Homo sapiens: one gene and its partner. The protein of the gene in region 1 purifies or fractionates together with the protein of each later gene. This does not show direct contact. Each region holds a gene or a part of one and is shown in the gene's direction. Other genes may lie near its edges. The genes, in order: HLCS and TBC1D20.

Region 1 (5,635 bases):
AAGACAGACTTCCAAGAGTTACTGTCCACCCGGTGGTGTGGCCCCATAGCGAAGTCTAAATGCCTGTAGAGATAGAGCTAGCTGGTGTGGTTGCAGTGACCTTGTAGAGGAAATCAGTTCATTACTTTGACATCATTCAGTGAGCTCTCCTTTCCTAAGGAAGTTTAAATGTCCTTAGTTAGGGACTGACTTTCTTAAGTAAGTTTAAATTTACTACATATTGTGAAGAGACAGGATCAAGTTCAGAATCCTTAAATGTCTGATTAGGCATCACTTGGATGAGGAGGTGGGCGATTTGGCTCTGACAGCTGGAGATGAAGGCACACTCATACCACATACAAGGGAGGATTTGGAGCTTTTAAGCCAGTTTCAGATTTACTCTGAAATGTGGAGCATTCCTGCAAGACTGTGCAGCTCACGGAATATAGAAGACATGGCATTTTACTCAGAAGTCATAAGTTTTTGCCCCCCTCATTTACCTCGTATTACCAAGAAAGAAAATGTTATCGATACTAAACACCATCAGTTCAGAGGGAGGATGTGTGTGTGTGCCCGCATATGTGTGTGCGTGCGTGTGTGCGCACATAGCTTTAAAAGAAGACATTCAAAATTTGATGTGCTACAAGCCTCATGAAAGAACAAAAGAAATGAAGCCTTTTGATATGCATTCGCTATTCCCAGATGTACGCCATGCCTTTTCCATGTCCCTCCTATCTCTGTTGAACTTATGAATCATACTCATTACTTTTCAGCTTTTTAAAAGGCCAATTTTTGTCCAGTTTTCTCTCTTCCAGTCCCAGCTGAAATTAGTGGAAAGAAAGTTTGATGGAGCTTTCAGCTTTGAACAAAATCCCTTCATTGTAAACTAGCACCATCTTTATCCAGGTCTTACCCAGTCAGGCTAATTCCAGAAACTTGTGGTTTTTAGTATAGTCTGTCTACCTTTAGCCAGGCACAGGACAGCCCTATGAAAAAATACCCAATATATATTTTTTGGAAATGAAACATTAAAAGAACTTAAAAAGTAATTTTTGGAAATGAGGCTTCAATTAGAATTATTTTTCTCAAAAAACAAACAAACAAAAAACACAAAAAAAACCACTCTTCTCCAAATGCCCAAGCCTTCTTTCAAAATTAGTTAGAAACTTAAGTAAAATACAAGTCCACACCATCCCCAAATTACAAAATGGACTTACCCTTGAGAGGGCATCTGCAGAATATCATCAGGGACAAAGATCTCGAGGCTAACGATGTAGGTTTCATTTCTCAGACTTTGTAATATAAGGCAAGCCCTCTCTCAGAGCTGCCATCATCACTTTTTGAATTTCTTTGGGGGTTATTTAATGAAAAACATGCTATGTTTTGTTTTAAGCTGAAGTCCTATTCTGGACACTCTGCTTTGGGAAAAAATGTTATCATTTAATTTCCTTTCTGCAAATTAAAACTAATGAAGTGTGGCCTTGTCAAAGGCTATGGAGATGTTCCGGGCATACTGCTGTGCTCTGTGCTTTCCAGCAGGCGCTCCTCCCTCACGCAGGAGACTCAGTTGTCCTGAGAGAGATGAAGCAGCCTTGAAGCAGATGCTGCGTTTTCCATAAACCTGATTTTGCCTCACATGAACCAAAGACTCTCAAAACTCCGCTTCTATAGAATTAGCTGAATAAAGGCATTTTACTGATAGCTGTTCGTGTTAGCGAAACCTGTCTACCTGCTATAGCACACTCTCCGATTTGGGCCATTTATGCACCCCGCAACCTGGGATCTCAAGGAGCTTTAAAGTCTTAATGGGAACTTGGCATTTTCCTGATGATCTTTAAAATGTGGTCACTAAACTCAGGATTGGCGTGTGCTTTTAGAACACTGGAGTAGCCCTTGTTTTAGAGGCTGTGCATTGAGTATCGACCGTATTTTGTAAAAGGCAAGATATCCTCCCTTCCAGGCTGGTAACGGGTTTCAAGGGGACTCTTGAGGAAGTGCCCCCTAAAATAGAACACAGCAATAACTGGGCTTCCTGTCCCCACCCCCACCCCAGCAGTGCTCTCTGGCACTGGGAACTCTGCTAGGGAGTGGTGGAAGTAGGAAGGATTTGTGTGCAAAGGAAAATCGTGGTTGAGTTTCACTGCAGCAGGCTGACGTTGCCTGATGTGAGAGCAAGTGGCCGACTGGGGTGCGGGTGCACAGGTCGGGGGAGCACAGGCCACAGAGCGCAGCCTCTGGGGGTCCCCCAAGGCACAGCATATACAGCATGGTCGCCCCTTGCCCTGGAGTCTGGGAACAAAGAGAGGAGCCAGCCTCCCCGCACTGCTTCAGATGGAAAAGGGAGGCAGGGTGGGCTTCCGTTCTCCAGATCTGTTTGCTCTTAACAGGCAGAACATGGGAGAATCCTTATTCCTGGTTAATCACTATGCATATTTGAAATAAAAGAAAGCGTAAGCCTCTGCAATTTTAACTTCTCAAAGGATGTCTCTGAAAAGAATCACTTTAAACCAATGCCTATAAAAAGCAAGTCTACCAAAATAAACTAAGACTTTCTATGTGGTTTGGGCTCCCTCTTATTTTTACAAGTTTCATTTTTAAAAGTAGGCAACTACTTTGGGTTACAGTATTTTTATTCATATTTAAACATTTTTACAAAATAAATAAAGTGTTTTACATAGTAAGGAATATGTACGTATTTCCAAGTATTAAGAAGCCAAGTGTTTTTTTTTTTGACGTATTATTGACAAATGTATTCAGCGCCATACACAAGAGAAATATTATTACTCCAAAGAACGAAAGTTAACAAAACTCCAAAGCAAAAACCCTTTTAATGGAGGTGAGAAATAAATTTAATGTAACAACAGCTAGATTGTTTTTAGGATTTTTCTTTTCTTTTGTGGAAACTTCTTGACTTGACTTTTCATCTGAACAGTTTTTCCCCCCAAGATTTTAATCTTATATGTCATACTTAAGTTTAGGAACAGCTTGAATAATTAGCATTCTAGATAACACAAGGGCCATGATTCACTAAAATTCCAAGCTACTGTAATTTTATGGCATTTATTTGCAAATGTTCTTTGTATCTCATTTTATCTGTAGCAGTCCCCACTAGTCTACCTTAACCATCTTATAGCTCTGGTAAATTAAAACTTACGTAGACTTTATACAAGATCCATTGGCCGTATTAAACCTCCCCCACTCTTAGGGCTTAGGGCGGAAGGGACGAAGGCAGGGCTGATAGGACTTTTAAAAGGATAAAAGGAGTGGGGGCAAGGGAGGCGGAAAATACAGGCTCTTGCAGATACCCTCCGCGCTGCCCTCCACACCCAGCCCACTGCTCTACAAAGGTATGAATGGAATGGCTTTTCTAGAAAAGGGCTTCCAAGAACATAAAGGAATTCCTTTCCCTGGGAGGCCCCGTGGAGGGCTGAGCCAGCCTTGAATTGGGCTTATTTCTCAAATCCATTTGATCTGGCATTTTTGTCAACATGGTACATGTTAGGGCCTACGATGATTTTTTTTTCTTTTTTGTAAAAGAGAGGCATATGTATTAAAATGCTTCCTCTTCCCCTGCCGGAGCCTCACAGAAGTCAAGAAACGCTATCCCCAGCTTAAATGTGCAGACTCTTCAAGATGGAGGTCACAATATTAGGTTGCCACAGTAACAGCTCTGCTGACTTCACACTCAGCCCTGGCCGTCCTGAAGCCAGCTCGTGTAAGAATCTTCCTTCATGTTCTAGGTTATGAAAACGAAGTTTGTTTAGACAAGGACGTTTTCACTAGTACACATTTTCAAGTACATACACACTCTGTTACGCCTGTCCACGTTGTCACTTGTAAATCTATGATAGGGTCTTTTTTCTCAACAGTAACCTTTGTTATTGAACTGCTCCGATAGCCTTGATTTATTTTTACTAAATACAGCCCCAAAAGTTAATAACAAGGTAGACACAAAAGCATTTTGCAGTACTTTATTGAAAAATGTCGGTGGTATCTCCTAGTAATCAAACCTACACCTTTCAAGAATCACGGTTTAATTACAAGACTCATGAACATAAAAAAATAATACCCTCGGCTTATTTCCTGTGCACACACTCACAAGGAGCTGTGAATGAGGTATAGCTGAGTGCGTGGAGAGGCGGGCACATCCCTTCCTACCATCCAGCCCCTTCGCTGCATGACCCACGGTCCTAAATTTGCAAATTGTGACTCTTACCATGAGGCCCACTGACAGACACCCTGTAGGGATTGTGTCAGGTCCTCACTAAGTGACACAGGGTTGGCAAAAAAAAAAAAAAAAAAGTCAGTTCACATTTTGAGAGCAGTTGGTGTAGGTGCACTTGATTTTAGAACGATGAGTTTAAAACATTTGTGAAAACCTCTTTCCATTCAGAAAGGTGGAAAAAGTTTCCTAAAATAAACCATTTTGATAAAGCAGCAAAATGCTGCAGTGTTGATAGTGTGAAGAAAATTGAAGGACGGCGGTTCAATGCATTGTGCAGTTCAGAGCCATGACAGGATTTTTCCATGTTGAGATCTTTAAGCAAAACCCATAAAAAGTAAAAATTAATGGAAGCTCATTTTTTAAACACTGCTGGTGCTTTATGAAAGGATTTCTGTTTACCTGTTGCACACGTAACATGTTCTTACGAAGTTTTCTCGCTGTGTAGAAAATGCTTAAAATGTCTACATCATTTTCATTACACCCCCTTAAGCATGTTTTTCCTTCACAAGGTGCAGTCCATTGACAGTGTTCCGTATTGCACGTGCAATTTAACTTTATTAGCACTATTTGTAGCAAACACGAGCCTAGTGAATTACAGATCTGTGTGGGCCAGAGGGATTTTGCCACGTAATAATGAAGCTTGACAGGGTCATTCTCATAAACTGTCTGGCTACATATATATTTTTGCATTTAATGCCTATTCAATATATTCTGAAGGTGCTACTCTTGGTGTTATCAAGAGTTCATAGGGGTTAGGGGGAAGTAAGAGCTTGTTAATGTATTTGGGAAGCACACCTATGTTCACAGACACAAAATGGAATTGCATGGTCACCCCCTTAGTCTTGGTTTGTTGGCTTTTTGTATTGAAGAAAGGGTTAAATAAAAACAAAAATAATGAGACTCTTGAATGACTTTTAAAGACAGTGGAGTTGTGTATTCATGGGACTTACAATCATCACTTCTGCCTTCACCTAAGCATCTAAAAGGGCTCGTGACACAGGCGTCCCCTCCCAGGTCTGCCGTCCACTTGGAAGAGCGGACTGTGGTAGGGTGGGTTTTCCCTCCTGAAAGTGGAGGATATTTGCGGAGTGAAACCGCTTCAATCCCCCAGCGGGACTGTTGTGGAACGTTGGGGACAAGGCAAGACGCGTGAAGCCCGATTTCAAGGTGAGGAAACCAAGCCCCCAGCAACTGGGTCGCACCGGCCCTCGCAGGACAGAGGCGGGCGGTCACCTGCCCGGACCCGGGCGCTCCTCGGCCCTCGGCACCGGCGCGCGGGGCCTCCGCGGTGGAAATCCGCAAGTCGGCGGCGGGGTCCAATTCAAACAGCTGTCTCTGCATAAATTAATGTAGGTCGTGCGCATTTGCCGGGCTCGGTGGCGCCGCAGCCCCGGGAGGCCGGGTCCAGGCTCCTGGCGCGGGCGGCCAGCG
Region 2 (7,091 bases), on another chromosome or scaffold:
TTTATGTGAGTCTCAATATACCTTTCTAAACAGCTTAGTGCTCCCACAACTTTATAGGCGTTAGGGTTTTTTTCAGTGGTCTGTTGTTCCCACATTCATGATTTTATTTGATCCTTGGAATATCCTCATTTTGTAGCTGTGGACTTTGAAATTCAGAGCAGTTCCCAGTGATGCACAGTGGCCTTCTGCACGAGGCGCCTGGCCTCCTTACGTCTTTGCTCTCCTTCCCACCCTGCTGTATTGTCTCCTGGGCAGTCTGTGCTCCCTTCTCTTAGGGTCATTGTGACTTGCAGGAAACATAATGTTTGGAACCAAACTAGGGATTCCCTGCCAAATGTTGTATCTTGAGTCATATCATCCTCTTCAGGAGAAGCTGACATGTGCCCTCTAGGCCTTTTGTGTCATCCCAGAATGTTTTGCTTCTGGTCTGGCTTCTCAGGCATTCCTGCAATAACGTGCCTTTTCCTTCAATAGGGAAGAACCTACGGCAGATGAGCAAGGACTACCAACAAGTGTTGCTGGACGTCCGGCGGTCATTGCGGCGGTTCCCTCCTGGTGAGAAGCTCTCCCGGTCCTGCCACATTTGGAAAGACTGTATCTGTTCCAGGTCATACCATGTGACCTAATATGCTGGACCCTGCCGCCTCAGGGACCTTCAGAGCTCTCCTTTTGCTGAGTCATCCTTTTCTTGACTGGTCACTTTCAGACCCCCACTGTGAAAGCCTGAACCAAAAATAATTTCTCCTGGCCTAGAGGTGGTGAATGAGAGAAGAGGTTTTTGTTTTTCCTTGAAGCCACAAAAAGGAGTTAATAAGGATTGTTAGAGCCATCAGTCTGGCATTAAAGAGCAGATTGGTGTGGAATTGGGCACCAACAAGAATGAGTAATATCTTAATTAGGTTTAAAAACGATGGTACCTTGCGCATACATATGTAAGATTCCTTAGAGGGAAGAGAGGCCATTCCCTGTTTGTGTAAGAGTATATTCCTTAATTAACAAATTAAGCAGCAATAGATAAAAAAATAAATAAATAAAAACAAAACAAACAAACAAAAAAGAATGTATTCCTAAAATTACCTCTTTATTTCAGGAAGAAAGAAAAGAAGGACCGTTGTCTCAATTTTCACAGTGAAGGGAACTGGGCAACAAACCTCACATGGATGACCTATTTTTCTTCCTCTGGCAACTCCACCTTTAGGTCATGAAGAGAGGAGAATTGCTAAAGGGAACAGGAGCCTCTAAGCTGGCTGCCTCCCTCTTCTGCACTGTGCTCTGGCCTGGCTTTTGTTGTTGAAGGGGCTGCTTTCCTGCTGGCATTCTTGCTCCCTGGACAGATTCTTGCAATACCCAGGTAGCAGTAGCCTGCCAGCGTGGTTTTGATAAAAGCACATGCCCACGGTCCATTCCCTTTTCCTAGCCTGCTGGTTTGGATGAGATCATATAGGACAGATGCCTCCCTTTTTTTTTTTTTTTTAAAGACAGAGTTTCACTCTTGTTGCAGGCTGGAGTGCAATGGCACTGTCTCAGCTCACTACAACCTCCGCCTCCCAGGTTCAGGCAGTTCTCCTGCCTCAGCCTCCCAAGTAGCTGGGATTACAGGTGCCCGCCACCACGCCCAGCTAATTTTGTGTGTGTGTGTTTTTAATAGAGATGGGGTTTCACCATGTTGGCCAGGCTGCTCTCGAACTCCTGACCTCAGGTGATGCACGTACCTCAGCCTCCCAAAGTGCTGGGATTACAGGCAAGAGCCACCCCCATTTTTTCCTAGGTAACCTGTTTTCCCTCTGAACCCTTTATTCCTCTTCCATTGATGTAATATCTGTGATACGCTTTCTGTAGGCTGAACTTACAGTGTGGCTTCATATTCTTTTTCCATTCATGGTCTTCTGGGCTTGGCTCACTGCTTTTCTGCTGAAAATTCACACAGGGTTTAATTTTTACTCTCACTCCTTTCACTGCTTCACCTATCAGCAGCCCTGGGTTTGCTTCGTTTCCTTATTTATCTTTTAGGGTATGCTTTTTATTTGAGAAGGGGTGGGGTAAATATGGGCAAGAGGTGAGTTTTGCTCTTACCTGCAATCCTTTGTCCGGTTTAGTTTGGGCCCTTACATTAGCTGCTTTCTCTCTCTGAGTATGTGTTTGTAACTGAAAGCTAATGGTGTGGAGAAGCTGTGCATGTGCCATTCTTCTAACCTGGCTCATAAGGCCAAGGCATTTTTACTGCTGGCAGCACTAGCTCCAGCAGTAAAAGAACTCCCTGAAAGAACTCCTGAGACAGGCTTCCCTATTTCCAGCTATAATACATCTTTGGATCAAGAGGATCAGTTTTTCCTGTAACGTTTGCTTTGGTTTAAAGGGGACCGTGTAACTTTAAAATTTTTTTATTTTTATATAATTTCATACTTACTGAAAGGTTGTAAAAATAGGACAAAGAATTCCCCAGATACCTTTTACCCAGATTTCCTTTTGTTTTCACATTTTACTACATTTGCTTTTTTTTTCTTGGAGACGGAGTCTTGCTCTCTCGCCCGGGCTGCAGTGCAGTGGCACGATCTCAGCTCACTGCAAGCTCTGGTTCCTGGGTTCATGCCATTCTCCTGCCTCAGCCTCCCAAGTAGCTGGGACTACAGGCGCCTGCCACCACGCCCAGCTAATTTTTTGTATTTTTTATTAGAGACGGGGTTTTTCACCATATTAGCCAGGATGGTCTCGATCTCCTGACCTCGTGATCCACCTGCCTCTGCCTCCCAAAGTGCTGGGATTACAGGCGTGAGCCACCGCGCCTGGCCTACATTTGCTTTTTTAGCTGCTTTCTGTCTTTCCTTCGCTTTACACATAGACATACACTTTTTCTCTGAACTATTTAAGAGTAAGTTGCAAACATGACATCTTTTTACCCCAAGTGTTTCAGGACATATTTCCTAAATATAAGGCTCTCATGTAATCACAGTACACTGAGCAACATCAGTAACAACACTGAAAAATAGTTAACTAATTAATCCACAGATTTTATTCACATTTCACCATTTCTTCGAGTAATGTGCTTCACTGGAAAAGGAAATATAGATTTATGCGTTTCTCATGCTGTTGTCCTATATCTTTAGCCATTTTTAATCTGGAACAGTTCCTTTGTATTGTATGAGAGTTAAATTTCTCTTCCTTTGGGGATATTGGGTATTTCTTCATTGTGAGATTGAGGTCTGTGCGCTGTTGATAGAAATCCTGCAGACATGATGCTGAGCTCTGTCAGTGCATCACCTCGGGAGGCAGAGGCCGTCTGTGGCTCCCATAGTTGAAATTCTGCAGTTAAATACTGTGTCCCAGCAGTATTAACTGCAGCAACTTGGTTAGGGTGGCATCTGCAGCTTCCCCTACTGGAAAGCTAGCAGCTGCCTTTTCCTGTATGCCAGGTGGTATCAACAGTGGATCTTGATATGCGTTGCCAAATTATTTGTAATTCATTTTCCTTTTTTCTCTGAAAATTCATTGCTGGCCTTCTTCGACCTCCTTGTTAACTAGGCTGCTTGGTATGTTCAAAGGCATCTCTGTTCCTGTCCCCAGGCATGCCAGAGGAACAGAGAGAAGGGCTCCAGGAAGAACTGATTGACATCATCCTCCTCATCTTGGAGCGCAACCCTCAGCTGCACTACTACCAGGGCTACCATGACATTGTGGTCACATTTCTGCTGGTGGTAGGCGAGAGGCTGGCAACATCCCTGGTAGAAAAATTATCTACCCACCACCTCAGGTACCAGTAGAGAGGAACACAAGACGACGGGCATCACTCCTCAGCCGTCCTGGGGATAACTCACTGGCCTGTTTTCTGGTCAGCTTTTTTAGGAGTTTGAGCCCTCGCCACCCTGAGCCCTGATCTAAGTGTTTGGTAACCAGGCTTATTGAATTGTCTCCCTCCAGGGATTTTATGGATCCAACAATGGACAACACCAAGCATATATTAAACTATCTGATGCCCATCATTGACCAGGTGAATCCAGAGCTCCATGACTTCATGCAGAGGTACATATGTGTCTGCATTTCTGTGTGCATGCATACACACGCCCACACCCCCCCACACCTGAAACACTCCTCACAAGCCGAGCGCAGTTTCCTCATTGTCTTGGGTGGATTTGTTAAGTTCTCCCCAGTTGTTCCAGTCACCAGCAATCTGGGTAATTCAGTTCTTGGAGCATTTTTGGGGACTGTGCTCTTTGGGGGACATAGCCCATCCCTTGAGTTTACATCTAGTGGGGAGAGGTGGATAAGGTATGTATGCCAAGGTAAGATGTTGAGGTTATTGCCACAAGAGAAACACAAAGTCCTGTGGGATCCAGTGGCGAGAAGGGGAAGGCCAACAATGGGTTGTTTTATTTCCCAAGTACCAAAGAGAAGAAATATTTTTTTGCAAATCCCATGTGATGTTTTGTTTCTTCTCTGTTTAGTTGGAAATGTGTTCTTGGCCAATGCCTCTTTTTTTAAAATTTTTTAAAAGGTAATGGCTATGCCTTCTTTTTTTTTGAGATGGAGTATTTTCTCTTGTTGCCCAGGCTGGAGTGCAATGGCATGATCTTGGCTCACTGCAACCTCTATCTTCCGGGTTCAAGCGATTCTTCTGCCTCAGCCTCAAGTAGCTGGGATTACAGGCATGCGCCACCACGCTCGGCTAATTTTGTATTTTTAGTAGAGACAGGGTTTCTCCATGTTGGTCAGGCTGGTCTCGAGCTCCCGATGTCAGGTGATCCGCCCGCTTTGGCCTCCCAAAGTGCTGAGATTATAGGCGTGACTCACCGTGTCTGGCAGCTACATCTTAAGATATTTCAGTTGTCTCATGTTAACAGAAAAATTAATGCAGTCATGTTTTCAGGCTTGGGAATATGTACCTGTGCCCCCCAGAAGGGTAAGACTTAGTCAGAAGGAGAATCATGGCGTAGTTCTCTGAAAACAACTGCTTCTCGTTCCTGTAGTTGACATTTGTTGGCCAGTAGGCGAGCACCCAGTGAGATAAAGCAGCCAGGACCCTGTTGTGGTGTTAGTGTTGTGGTACACCTTAAAGACTTTGTATTAAATATTTTGTAAGGAGAAGATGCTGAATTCCTAGGTAACTGAATTTTCCAGAAATCTTATTCCTAAATGCTTCCTTCTCACCAGCGCTATAAGGCCCAGAGAGAGGGAAGGGATGGCCCACAGGACCTGACACCTGCCTTTCCTTTGTTTCTAGTGCTGAGGTAGGGACCATCTTTGCCCTCAGCTGGCTCATCACCTGGTTTGGGCATGTCCTGTCTGACTTCAGGCACGTCGTGCGGTTATATGACTTCTTCCTGGCCTGCCACCCACTGATGCCGATTTACTTTGCAGCCGTGGTAGGTACAGGCCACGAGCCAGCAGCTGGGTTCACCATCACCCATCCCACTGTGGTCATTTTCCCTGAAGGGAAACCTGGGGATTATGGAAAGATGCAAAAGACAGCACTTCCCAGGCTGGTGTCCCTGGACACCATTCTGTGCAGTATTAATGGGGGTGTCACACACAAAAAATAGTAAGTTGGGAAATGCTGGGTATAAACAAAATCAGATTTTTTTTGCTGCATGACACTTCTGAACCTTTAAAATGCTAATCTGCATTGTGAATTGTCAGGGTTCCTGTTGACATTGTCTGGAATATATGTTCAGCTGATGAACACAATTAGGGAAATAGTAGCGTAAGCTGTCAACTCCAGATTTAAGAAAAGAAGAGATCTGGTGTCATGACAGACAAGGGAGGCGGCTTGCGGTGGAGGGTAGGGGCTTCAGTTAGTAGAAGGGTCTTGAGGGATGGGGTGGAGATGGGAATTCAGGGAAGTCCTTCAATGACCACTGGTCCCTTGAGCATCTGTGGATTTGTGGACCAACAGTCAGAAGGAAGATGCTTAAAGGGAGCAAGACTGTTCTTTCTACTGTTTTGAACCATTTCTTCTATGCTGGAGCTCCAGGAATCTCCCAATAATTCTCCTACTTTCTCCTAAAAGAATCTCCTTCATTTCTTTCAAGACTTAAAGGGACACCTGAGCAGCCCAGCATGCCCGAAGGACTTAGATTGTAACTGGTCAGCCTTTCATGTCATGTGGTGGAAGTTTGCAGGAAGGGCCAGAGAGTAGGAGTAGCACTGAGCGTATATATGTTATTACTTCCTTGATGGATACAAGAGTTTGCTCAACATTTGGGCTGAGTCCTGTCTGTTACCAGTTTAAATTCATCTGCAAGGATAATGGAGTGCAGGTGGCCCAGGCCCTGTGTGTCTGGCCTCTGACTGCAAGGCTTTACTACCTCCCCACAGATTGTGTTGTATCGCGAGCAGGAAGTCCTGGACTGTGACTGTGACATGGCCTCGGTCCACCACCTGTTGTCCCAGATCCCTCAGGACTTGCCCTATGAGACACTGATCAGCAGAGCAGGAGACCTTTTTGTTCAGTTTCCCCCATCCGAACTTGCTCGGGAGGCCGCTGCCCAACAGCAAGCTGAGAGGTGAGCAAGGCTGGGACACTGGTTGAATGGGGGTGGCTGTAAATGAGCAGAAGCGAGGGAAGGTTTGTGTCTGGTGGGATAGGGTTGGGGCATGTTTCCAGAGATCTGAGCTTAGGCCAGTGGAATCCCCACTGTAGACATATGGGTCTTTATCATAAAGAGCTTTCCCAGCAATGAAAGGCTCTGCCCGCAGCCTATGTGGTGTAGTTTTGCTTTCCTCCTCCTCTTTCATACCACTTCCTTCCTTCCGTCTCTTTCCCCTGCAGGACGGCAGCCTCTACTTTCAAAGACTTTGAGCTGGCATCAGCCCAGCAGAGGCCTGATATGGTGCTGCGGCAGCGGTTTCGGGGACTTCTGCGGCCTGAAGATCGAACAAAAGATGTCCTGACCAAGCCAAGGACCAACCGCTTTGTGAAATTGGCAGTGATGGGGCTGACAGTGGCACTTGGAGCGGCTGCACTGGCTGTGGTGAAAAGTGCCCTGGAATGGGCCCCTAAGTTTCAGCTGCAGCTGTTTCCCTGAAAGCCAGAGAAGACCTTCCTCTTACATCACATTAAGGTCTCACCCTTCCATGGAAGGATTGGGAGGGGTGGA

What was found.
Region 2: the proteins of HLCS (region 1) and TBC1D20 purify together in Homo sapiens (affinity purification with mass spectrometry; 2 studies listed by BioGRID and IntAct, with this or other methods). This does not show direct contact.

What each region holds. Positions count from the first base shown.
Region 1 is NC_000021.9:36,748,095-36,753,729, reverse strand, and holds the end of HLCS (biotin--protein ligase), read left to right. Parts: 3' UTR 1-5,104; downstream 5,105-5,635. UniProt on the Homo sapiens protein: Biotin--protein ligase catalyzing the biotinylation of the 4 biotin-dependent carboxylases acetyl-CoA-carboxylase, pyruvate carboxylase, propionyl-CoA carboxylase, and methylcrotonyl-CoA carboxylase.
Region 2 is NC_000020.11:438,514-445,604, reverse strand, and holds part of TBC1D20 (TBC1 domain family member 20), read left to right. Parts: intron 1-474; coding exon 475-555; intron 556-3,561; coding exon 3,562-3,748; intron 3,749-3,915; coding exon 3,916-4,017; intron 4,018-5,215; coding exon 5,216-5,357; intron 5,358-6,309; coding exon 6,310-6,497; intron 6,498-6,763; coding exon 6,764-7,019; 3' UTR 7,020-7,091. UniProt on the Homo sapiens protein: GTPase-activating protein (GAP) specific for Rab1 and Rab2 small GTPase families for which it can accelerate the intrinsic GTP hydrolysis rate by more than five orders of magnitude. Also shows GAP activity for RAB18 GTPase.